Linked DNA regions of Homo sapiens. The protein of the gene in region 2 interacts with the protein of the main gene of each other region in a pairwise test. Each region holds a gene or a part of one and is shown on either strand. Other genes may lie near its edges.

Region 1 (3,500 bases), on a different chromosome or scaffold from region 2:
CAGCCTGGCCAACATGGTGAAACCTCATCTCTACTAAAACTACAAAAATTAGCCGGCTGTGGTGGCGCACGCCTGTAATCCCAGCTACTCAGGAGTCTGAGGCAGGAGAATTGCTTGAATCCAGGAGACGGAGGTTGCAGTGAGTTGAGATCATGCCACTGCACTACGGCCTGGCCGAGAAAGCAAGACTCCTTCTCCAAAGAAAAAAAAAAAAAAAAAAAAAAGGTATTAACCAGTTATGTCTGTGTGTGTACATGCACATGTGCGTGCAAAATTCTACACACTTTGTGGCAATGGGTGTTTTCAGGAGGACAAGGAGAGAGACAGAGACAGAGAACTAGTGTGTTTAAAAATAAAAATTTCTAAGAAACAATGATAAAAAAAATCTATAAACATTATATTTACCCTTAATGCTGACTAGACCAATGCTTATAAACTTAAAAAAGCAAAAAGTGAAACATACAAAAGGAAAAATAAAACTAATAAAGGCCATAACAATCTACAAATGGAAAATTATAGGTTCAATTTTTAAAAGAATTTTCCAGCAACCTCACTTTTCTCTCTCAGAGTTTCCCAAAGTGGAAGGGACAGACTGCCTTCCCCATTTGGCAGATAAAAAACAGGAGCGGAGGCATTCAGTGTGATTTGCCTAAAATTACTGACAGAACTGAGAGTACTATTTCCACTTTCCTAAATCCTCCAGTGTACCTCAAGAAAACACATAGAAGACTCACAAGCCCAAAGATGGAGTAACGACCATGAAAACTGGAGCATTTTACTACTTACAAAATTTCAAGGGAATGAAAATTTTAGAATACTTATTAAATCAAAATGGAAGAGAATTAACAAAAAAGCTCTACTTAATAGCTTTTCTAAGCATTCTATTATAGTATTTATCTCCATGGCCTGCAAACATTAATCTACTTCAGGCACTTCAGAGTATAAGCCATAAAACACATTTAAATGATACAAAGGAGAGAAGATAAAATCATTATAAAAACAGCAATCAGAAAGCCCTCCATCTTTGAGTATATTAATATATACCAGTGCATTCTCTATTAATTTCTCTACCAACTTCCCTAAGAAAGCTTCAACACTGAATGAATAATAATAATAAAAAATTTCATAAAATATGCTCTTTCTGGGGTACTGGGGGTAGGGAATGATTGACTTGGTAAGAGTGAACTTGAGTCAACAGTTAATAATCCAAGCCAAATTCCAGACAAATGATGTTCTGTTGACTCTTGAATAGAAAAGAATAATTCAGTGATTAACATATTCCCCCACTCCCTAAACTATATTAAGCTGTCTTCTCCATATGTTTAGAATTTCCCTCAGGAAGCATTTAACTTCTGCAAAGGTCTTTTTAGTAATAATTTTCTATGCTCTTTCCTGTAAGACCATTAAAAAAATTTTTTTTGTTGTTTTTTGAGACAGGGTCTTACTCTGTCACCCAGGCTGGAGTACAGCGGCTCAATCATATTTCACTGTGGCCTCTACTTCCTGGGCTCAAGTAATCCTCCTGCCCTAACCTCCCAAATAGCTGGGACTAGAAGCATGGCCCACCAGGCCTGCATAATTTCTTTTATTTTTTGTAGAGACAAGGTCTCCCTATGTTGCCCAGCTGATCTTGAACTCCTGGCCTCAAGCAATCCTCCTGCCTTTGCCTCCCAAAGTGTTAGAATTACAGGCCTAAGCCACCATGCCCAGCCTTCTGTAAGGCCATTAAAGAATATAACATTAGGAACTAAAGTTGGAACTGGATGGGTTATTCTGAGGAAGGATTTGATGTCTAATAAAAGGAGATTTCCCTGCATTCATAATACAACCAGGAGCTTATCTGAAAAGTCAGCAATACCTTCCCATTCCGTTATCCCCTTACATAAAAAACCTAAATATTTACCAATTCTAATATTTGGTAAGTATACTTGGCTATTCATAATACTAAAACAATAGGGAGCTCCCCAAATAAAGCCAATTTGAAATGGTTTAAGTCTGTTGCATGGTATAATTTATTTATTTGTATTAGTATTTTTTTTTGAGACAGAGTCACACTCTGTGGTGTGATCTCAACTCACTGCAACCTCTGCCTCCTAGGTTTAAGTGATTCTCCTGCCTCACTCAGCCTCCCAAGTAGCTGGGATTATTGGGTGTGGCACCACGCCCAGCTAATTTTTATATTTTTGGTAGAGAGGGGGTTTCACCATATATGGTGGACAGGCTGGTCTTGAACTCCTGACCTCAGGTGATCCGCCTACCTCAACCTCCCACAGTGCTGGGATTACAGGCATGAGCCACTGTGCCCAGCCTAATTTATTTTTAAAAAGGCTAGTTTACATGATCTGGTTATTTTTTATTATTAAGGCTCATTTAGACACTAACAGTTCAGTAGTAACTAGAAGAATTAAATTCTGTTGCTTTATCAAATATTAAAATATAATGCTGATCCAAAAACAGCCTCCCAATTTTAAGCAAATTCGTGCTACAAAAAATGAACAGCATTATTCAGTCAAAGCAAATACTCTGAAATATACTTACATAACAAATATTCAAGGACATCATTTTAAAGATAAATTTTATTTCAAAGCTATTGTTAAATATACCAACAAGAGGCAGGCGGATCACGAGGTCAGGAGATCGTGACCATCCTGGCCAACGTGGTGAAACCCAGTATCTACTAAAAAATACAAAAAATTAGTCGGGCATGGTAGTGGGCACCTGTAGTCCCAGCTACTTGGGAGGCTGAGGCAGGAGAATGGCGTGAACCTGGGAGGCAGAGCTTGCAGTGAGCTGAGATCTCGCCACTGCACACCAGCCTAGGCGACAGAGCGAGACTCCATCTCAAAACAAACAAACAAACAAACAAACAAACAAACAAAACAAACCCAACATGAAGTACTATACTAGTCAGAATTCAGATTTCATTTAGTTTTCAGTGTCAATCCAACTTGTGGTCAAGATATTTTAAAGTTCAATAAACCTATTTGTTACCGTATCCTAAAACTGCTTACTTTAATACAATCAGTTAGAATGAGGTGACATATTCTTGAAACAGCAACAACATATGCTCATTGTAAAATGTTTTAAATATTAATTTAATAAACAGAAAATTCCAGGAGGAAGTAAATATGTAGTAACAGATAATTTTGTGATTATTAGGATGATTATATAGCTACCTTAGTGTTTCTAAAGGGATATTTTAATTATTCTCACAGTTTAAAAACCATATCTCTCAGAGATGAACTTTAATTAATTAAAGTTTATCAACAGTGCAGTTTTCAGGCCTGTTTTGACAATAATCTTTTGTGATTATAAATTGAGTAACTAATAACACTTAGTATTGGGTAATTTATTTCAAATAAGATTATAATCAGCCTATCAACAAATGAGGCAATATGTAAAAGTGATTAACTGAACTAATAAATTTTTTTATGCTTAGGTCCAGTAAGTCCCAAGACTTTTAGAGAGAATGCAGTATGGTAAAACTGAAATAATACCTC
Region 2 (5,232 bases):
CCACTAAGCCGAAGGTAAGCTCCCTCTTGCCAATGAGGCTGCTTCCCTCAAAGGATTGTTTGCCAAAAGCCTGACTATGAGTAGTTTAAGAAGTCTGCTTAGCAGTAGCATTTCCAAACTGGGCCTCCATTTTCTGGATTTCTTTAGATGGACTTACCTTTATTGAACCAACGATATTCAAAGCAGTACAGTGAGTAGAGAAGGGACATATGCAGGAGACTAACCAGCTGACCGACAAGATGGATGGGAAAGAGACTCACAAACATTCCCTGAAGAACAAATATGGAAAATCTTAATCCCAAAGCCTCGGAAACCTAGCACCATTCACCTGTCACTCTCCAATCACTGTCTGAGATAGCTTCCTAGCTGCTTCTCAAGTTTCTAAAAGGCCGAGTGCAGGGTGGGCACAGTGACTCATTCCTGTAATCCCAACAGTTTGGGAGGATGAGGCGGGAGGATCTCTTGAGGCCAAGAGTTAAAGACCAGACTGGGCAACATACTGAGACCCTGTCTCTACAACAAGATTTTTAAAATGAGCATGATGGCATGTGCCTGTAGTCCCAGCTACTCAGGAGGCTAAGGCAGGAGGATTGCTTGAGCCCAGAGTTTGAGGCTGCAGTGAGGTATGATTGTGCCACTGTACTCCAGCCTAGGTGGCAAAATAAGACCCTGTCTTTTATTTATTTATTTATTTTTGAGACAGTTTTGCTCTTGTCGCCCAGGCTGGAGTGCAATGGCGCGATCTCGGCTCACTACAATCTCTGCCTCCTGGGTTCAAGCGATTCTCCTGCCTCAGCTTCCCGAGTAGCTGGGATTACAAGCATGTTGCCACCACGCGCAGCTAATTTTTGTATTTTTAGTAGAGATGGGGTTTCACCATGTTGGCCAGGCTGGTCTCAAATGCCTGACCTTAGGTGATCCGCCCACCTCGGCCTCCCAAAGTGCTGGGATCACAGGCATGAACTACTGCGCCCAGCCGACCCGTCTGTCTCTTTAAAAAAAAAAAAAAATTAGGCATAACTATAAAAAGAAAAAAAGTTTCCACCTGGCAGGACTGGAGAATAACCAGAGTAGCAGAAAAAAGCAGGTAAATTCATGTTTCTTATAATTTTATAATGTAATTTTAAAATTCTCATTTCCGTGGGGAAAAAAAGATTTAAAAATCATTACCTCCCACCAGCATATATATAATACTCTGTATAAATATAATACTCTGTCTTTGTGAAGTTCTCTCTAGTGAAACAGTTTTTCTTTTTAATAAAGCTGCCCATATGCCCAGAAGGTCAGTCTCACCTGAATGAGGAAAAGAGCCTGCAGCAAAAGGTTGAAGAGCATGTCAGCAATTATTTTGCTGACACTAGGGAATGGGTGAGGCTTCCTCCCTGATACCTCAAATGCCAGGTCAGCTATATCCTGTAACAGAGAAAGTGTACCAAAACATGAATTAAATGGCCTTGATATACATCCCCAAAGCTAAGGCCACTAGTCCGCCACTAGAGCTGCCAGTTAAGAAAAGGCTTATTTAAAAATAAGCTGGGCACGATGGCATGTGCCTATAGTCCCAGCTACTCAGGAGGCTAAGGTAGGAGGATTGCTGCCTTATGCCGTGGCTCACGCCTATAATCCCAGCACTTTGGGAGGCCGAGGCAGGCAGATCAGCAGGTCAGGAGTTTGAGACCAGCCTGGCCAACATGGTGAAACCCTGTCACTAATAAAAATACAAAAAAAATTAGCCAGGCATGGTGGCACGTGCCTGTAGTCCCAGCTACTTGGAAGGCTGAAGCAGGAGAATTGCTTGAACCCGGGAGGCAAAGGTTGCAGTGCACTCCAGCCTGGGCGACAGAGTGAGACTGTCTCAAAAAAAAAAAAAAAAAAAAAAAAGCCAAAACGAAAAAGAAAAGGCACCAGACACCTGCCAATGAGATGCTGAGACAATAATTCCATTCTGTAAGAACACAAAGATCAGCTACTGGCTACCTGGCCAAGAAACATTAAGGCTGAAAAACAGGTCCCCCTACATGCCCACTAACTTCACAGGCTGAAACTTGTCACCTGTCAGCCAATCATGCTGCGGGACCCAGACTCCATTCTGCCCTGGACCTACCTGAAACCAAATGGCATTCACCACTTTGCTAAGCACAAACAAGGGGAGCACCCAAAGAGCACTGAAAATTGACGTGAGGAAGAATTCCAGCCACGACCAAACATCTCCATGTAGTGATGGGTCACCTAAGAAAGAGGAAACGAGTTACTAGAAATGGAGAAATGGAAATCCAGAAGACCAAATGCGGAACCCCCATCTCGTGACTATTCTCTGTCTCCTCCTGGATCTTTCTAGTTCTTGCCAGCACATCACTATACCTATCTCAAAGAGTCTAACTCATAATAGACGCACCACATTCTGGCCACAATTCCAATTCAAAGAAACCATAGATATGTGCTGCTTGACACAAACCTGCTTACATGATGGTAACGAGATGCCACAGTGATTACCAGTACGCTATCTGCAGGATACCATCTGGGTTTAAATCTCAGCTTTGCCTCTTACTAATGGTTTAACCTTGGTAACTTGCATTTCCTCATTCATAAAATGGATAGAACAACAGTACCCATTCTTAAAGGGCCTCTAGGAGAATAACGAAATATAAATTTTTAAAAAGAATAAAACAACAAAAAAGAAAATAAACAGTGAAAGCTCCTGGTACACAGGAAATGTTCAGTAAACTGAGGGAGACTGAAACATCATCTCCCACTCTGTCCCCAACAGACAAGGAGCAGGGTATACACTTACCGATAATTCGGGCTGTTACCGACTGAAGCACAGGAATAAATACTCGATAAAACAAGAGGAGACTGAACTAAAGAAAAGAAGCAACAAGGCAAACATCAAAATCCAGTCTTTAAAACAGGAGCTTCAATTTTTAGTGTAATGATTTTATAGATGGGAGTGACTTTTATAAATCAGGAGGCCTAGGCCGGGCGCGGTGGCTCATGCGCGGTGGTTCACTTTGAGAGGCCAAGGCAGGCAGATCACTTGAGGTCAGGAGTTCGAGACCAGCCTGGCCAAGATGGTGAAACCCCGTCTCTACTAAAAATACAACAATTGGTCGGGTGTGGTGGTGCATGCCTGTAATCCCAGCTACTGGGAAGGCTGAGGCAGGAGAATCGCTTGAACCCGGGAGGCAGAGGTTGCAGTGAGCCAAGATCATGCCACTGCACTCCAGCCTGAGCAACAGAGCGAGCCTCCATCTCAAATAAATACATAAATAAATAAATAAAATAAATCAGGAGGCCTGAAAAAGCACCAAAACTGGATCCATTTCTATTTCCCAACACTCCAATTGAGAGATACAAACTTGATATTGCCTATAAAACAATGAAACTTTTGGGGGCATACAGGAACATTTCAAGTAGTATTCAGGCCAAAATACAGGCATGTACTAAGTACACAGGAATACATATTAATTAAATTTAAAACTAACATCTGAAAACATCTGTGAATTGTTTAGATTAAGAAGTGATGAATTACTCTAAATTCTAAGTCAAAGGAAATATTTATCCATTCTTCAAAGTACCCAAATTTCAGTTAAGCCTGCACTGGGATTCTCAGTAAATGGTAGGCAATCTTTTCTGCTATAGGTTTCAATGCAAATTAACTCTTGTTGATCACTATAAGCAGAAGCAGGGAGAACCTTGTTCTTGTCTAGCCGTATCTGCCCTTCCCGAGTCCCCATAGTTGCTGTTAGCATTTTAAAATGTCTAGACAGTGTCAAGAGAAACTGCTACCTCTAATACTTGTGAATGAGTCATTTTAGAAACAAAATTCAAGTGTATATTCAGGGCTGTGACGTTTGCTTACATATAAGTGTGCTTTCCTGAGTGGGAATAAAATCTCTGCAGATGCACAGACTCCTGAGTTATATTTCTAAGTGTACATCAGCAGATGAAAACTATTTGTCTCAGTGTTTCAAGAAAACAGTTCATAGCTATCAACCCAGCAACAATCTGAAGATGCTTATAAGGCACCTGGAATTTAAAGAACTTACCCAGAACACTCCACCATTCCAAGCACAACACTGGAAAATTCTACTAACAATACGTGGCTCACTGGAAAAGATCACATGTATTTAGTTTATAAAGCATAAGTTATTTCCTAATTGTCATTCAGTAGTTCATTTTATATCTTATCTTTTGTGGGTACTGTATTATTTTTCAGTGCCTCATGTTCTCCCAATGTTCTAATGTCAGTCAATGAGAAAAGACTAAAAAAATGGTCAAGCGCAGTGGCTCACGGCTGTAATCCTAACACTTTGGGAGGCCGTGGTAGGCGATCAACTGAGGTCAGGAGTTCGAGACCAGCCTGGCCAACATGGCAAAACCCTGTCTCCACTAAAGAATATAAAAAATTAGCCAGGCGTGGTGGTGCGCACCTGTACTTCCAGCCAGCCGGTTCGCTGAGGCAGAAGAATTGCTTGGACCTGGGAGGCAGAGGCTGCAGTAAGCTGAGATTGCACCACGGCAATCTCAGGTGACAGCTTGGTGACAGGGCAAGAATCCGTCTCAAAAAAAAAAAAAAATGTGTATATATATGGAACCAGCTTTTAAAAGAAAAATAATTTATTTTCTAAAGTCTGATGATGGAAAAGATTAAGAGAAAGTGTGGGGCCAGGGTTCTTCTATTAATACATAAATCCACACAGGCTTCCCTAGAAGTATCTATCAAACCAAATAATATTTTGCGATTCTCTATTCAGCTTTCTGATTTAACACCATGACATTTTTAGCAAGGATTATTGTTAGACCCTAGTTTAAGTCAATGTTGTTGGGGGGAAATCACTTGCAACATTTTTCTGGGAAAAAGCACAAAAGAAATAAAATGGCACTGAAACATCAAGTCACTATGTAAGGTCTTCCCTCCCTTGGACATTTTGATATCAGGCATGCACTCCTTACCTCTCTTGCTTCCGCTCTATACTCTGGGCTCTTCTCTGTGCCAAGACACTACTTGCCCTTCTTCGACGCTGCTCCTCTCTCTTTTGCTGGATTCGAGCATCTAGCTTTGAGATGGTACAAATACCCCAGATGGAGTCTTTGATTCCCTATAGAAAAGGCTATCATTATTATTATTATTATTTGAGACAGGGTCTTGCTTTGTCACCCAAGCTACAGTGCAGTGACTCAATCATAGCTCACTGCAGCCTCCAACTCCTGGGTTCAAATGATCCTCCTGCC

What was found.
Region 1: the proteins of EI24 (region 2) and PGRMC2 interact in binary tests that used the Homo sapiens proteins (3 or more experiments, as listed by UniProt).

The regions. Positions count from the first base shown.
Region 1 is NC_000004.12:128,274,314-128,277,813, forward strand, and holds part of PGRMC2 (membrane-associated progesterone receptor component 2), read right to left. Parts: intron 1-3,500. UniProt on the Homo sapiens protein: Required for the maintenance of uterine histoarchitecture and normal female reproductive lifespan. May serve as a universal non-classical progesterone receptor in the uterus.
Region 2 is NC_000011.10:125,575,130-125,580,361, reverse strand, and holds part of EI24 (etoposide-induced protein 2.4 homolog), read right to left. Parts: intron 5,100-5,232; coding exon 4,954-5,099; intron 4,108-4,953; coding exon 4,047-4,107; intron 2,859-4,046; coding exon 2,792-2,858; intron 2,627-2,791; exon of another isoform or gene 2,456-2,626; intron 2,230-2,455; coding exon 2,105-2,229; intron 1,414-2,104; coding exon 1,294-1,413; intron 270-1,293; coding exon 158-269; intron 1-157. UniProt on the Homo sapiens protein: Acts as a negative growth regulator via p53-mediated apoptosis pathway. Regulates formation of degradative autolysosomes during autophagy.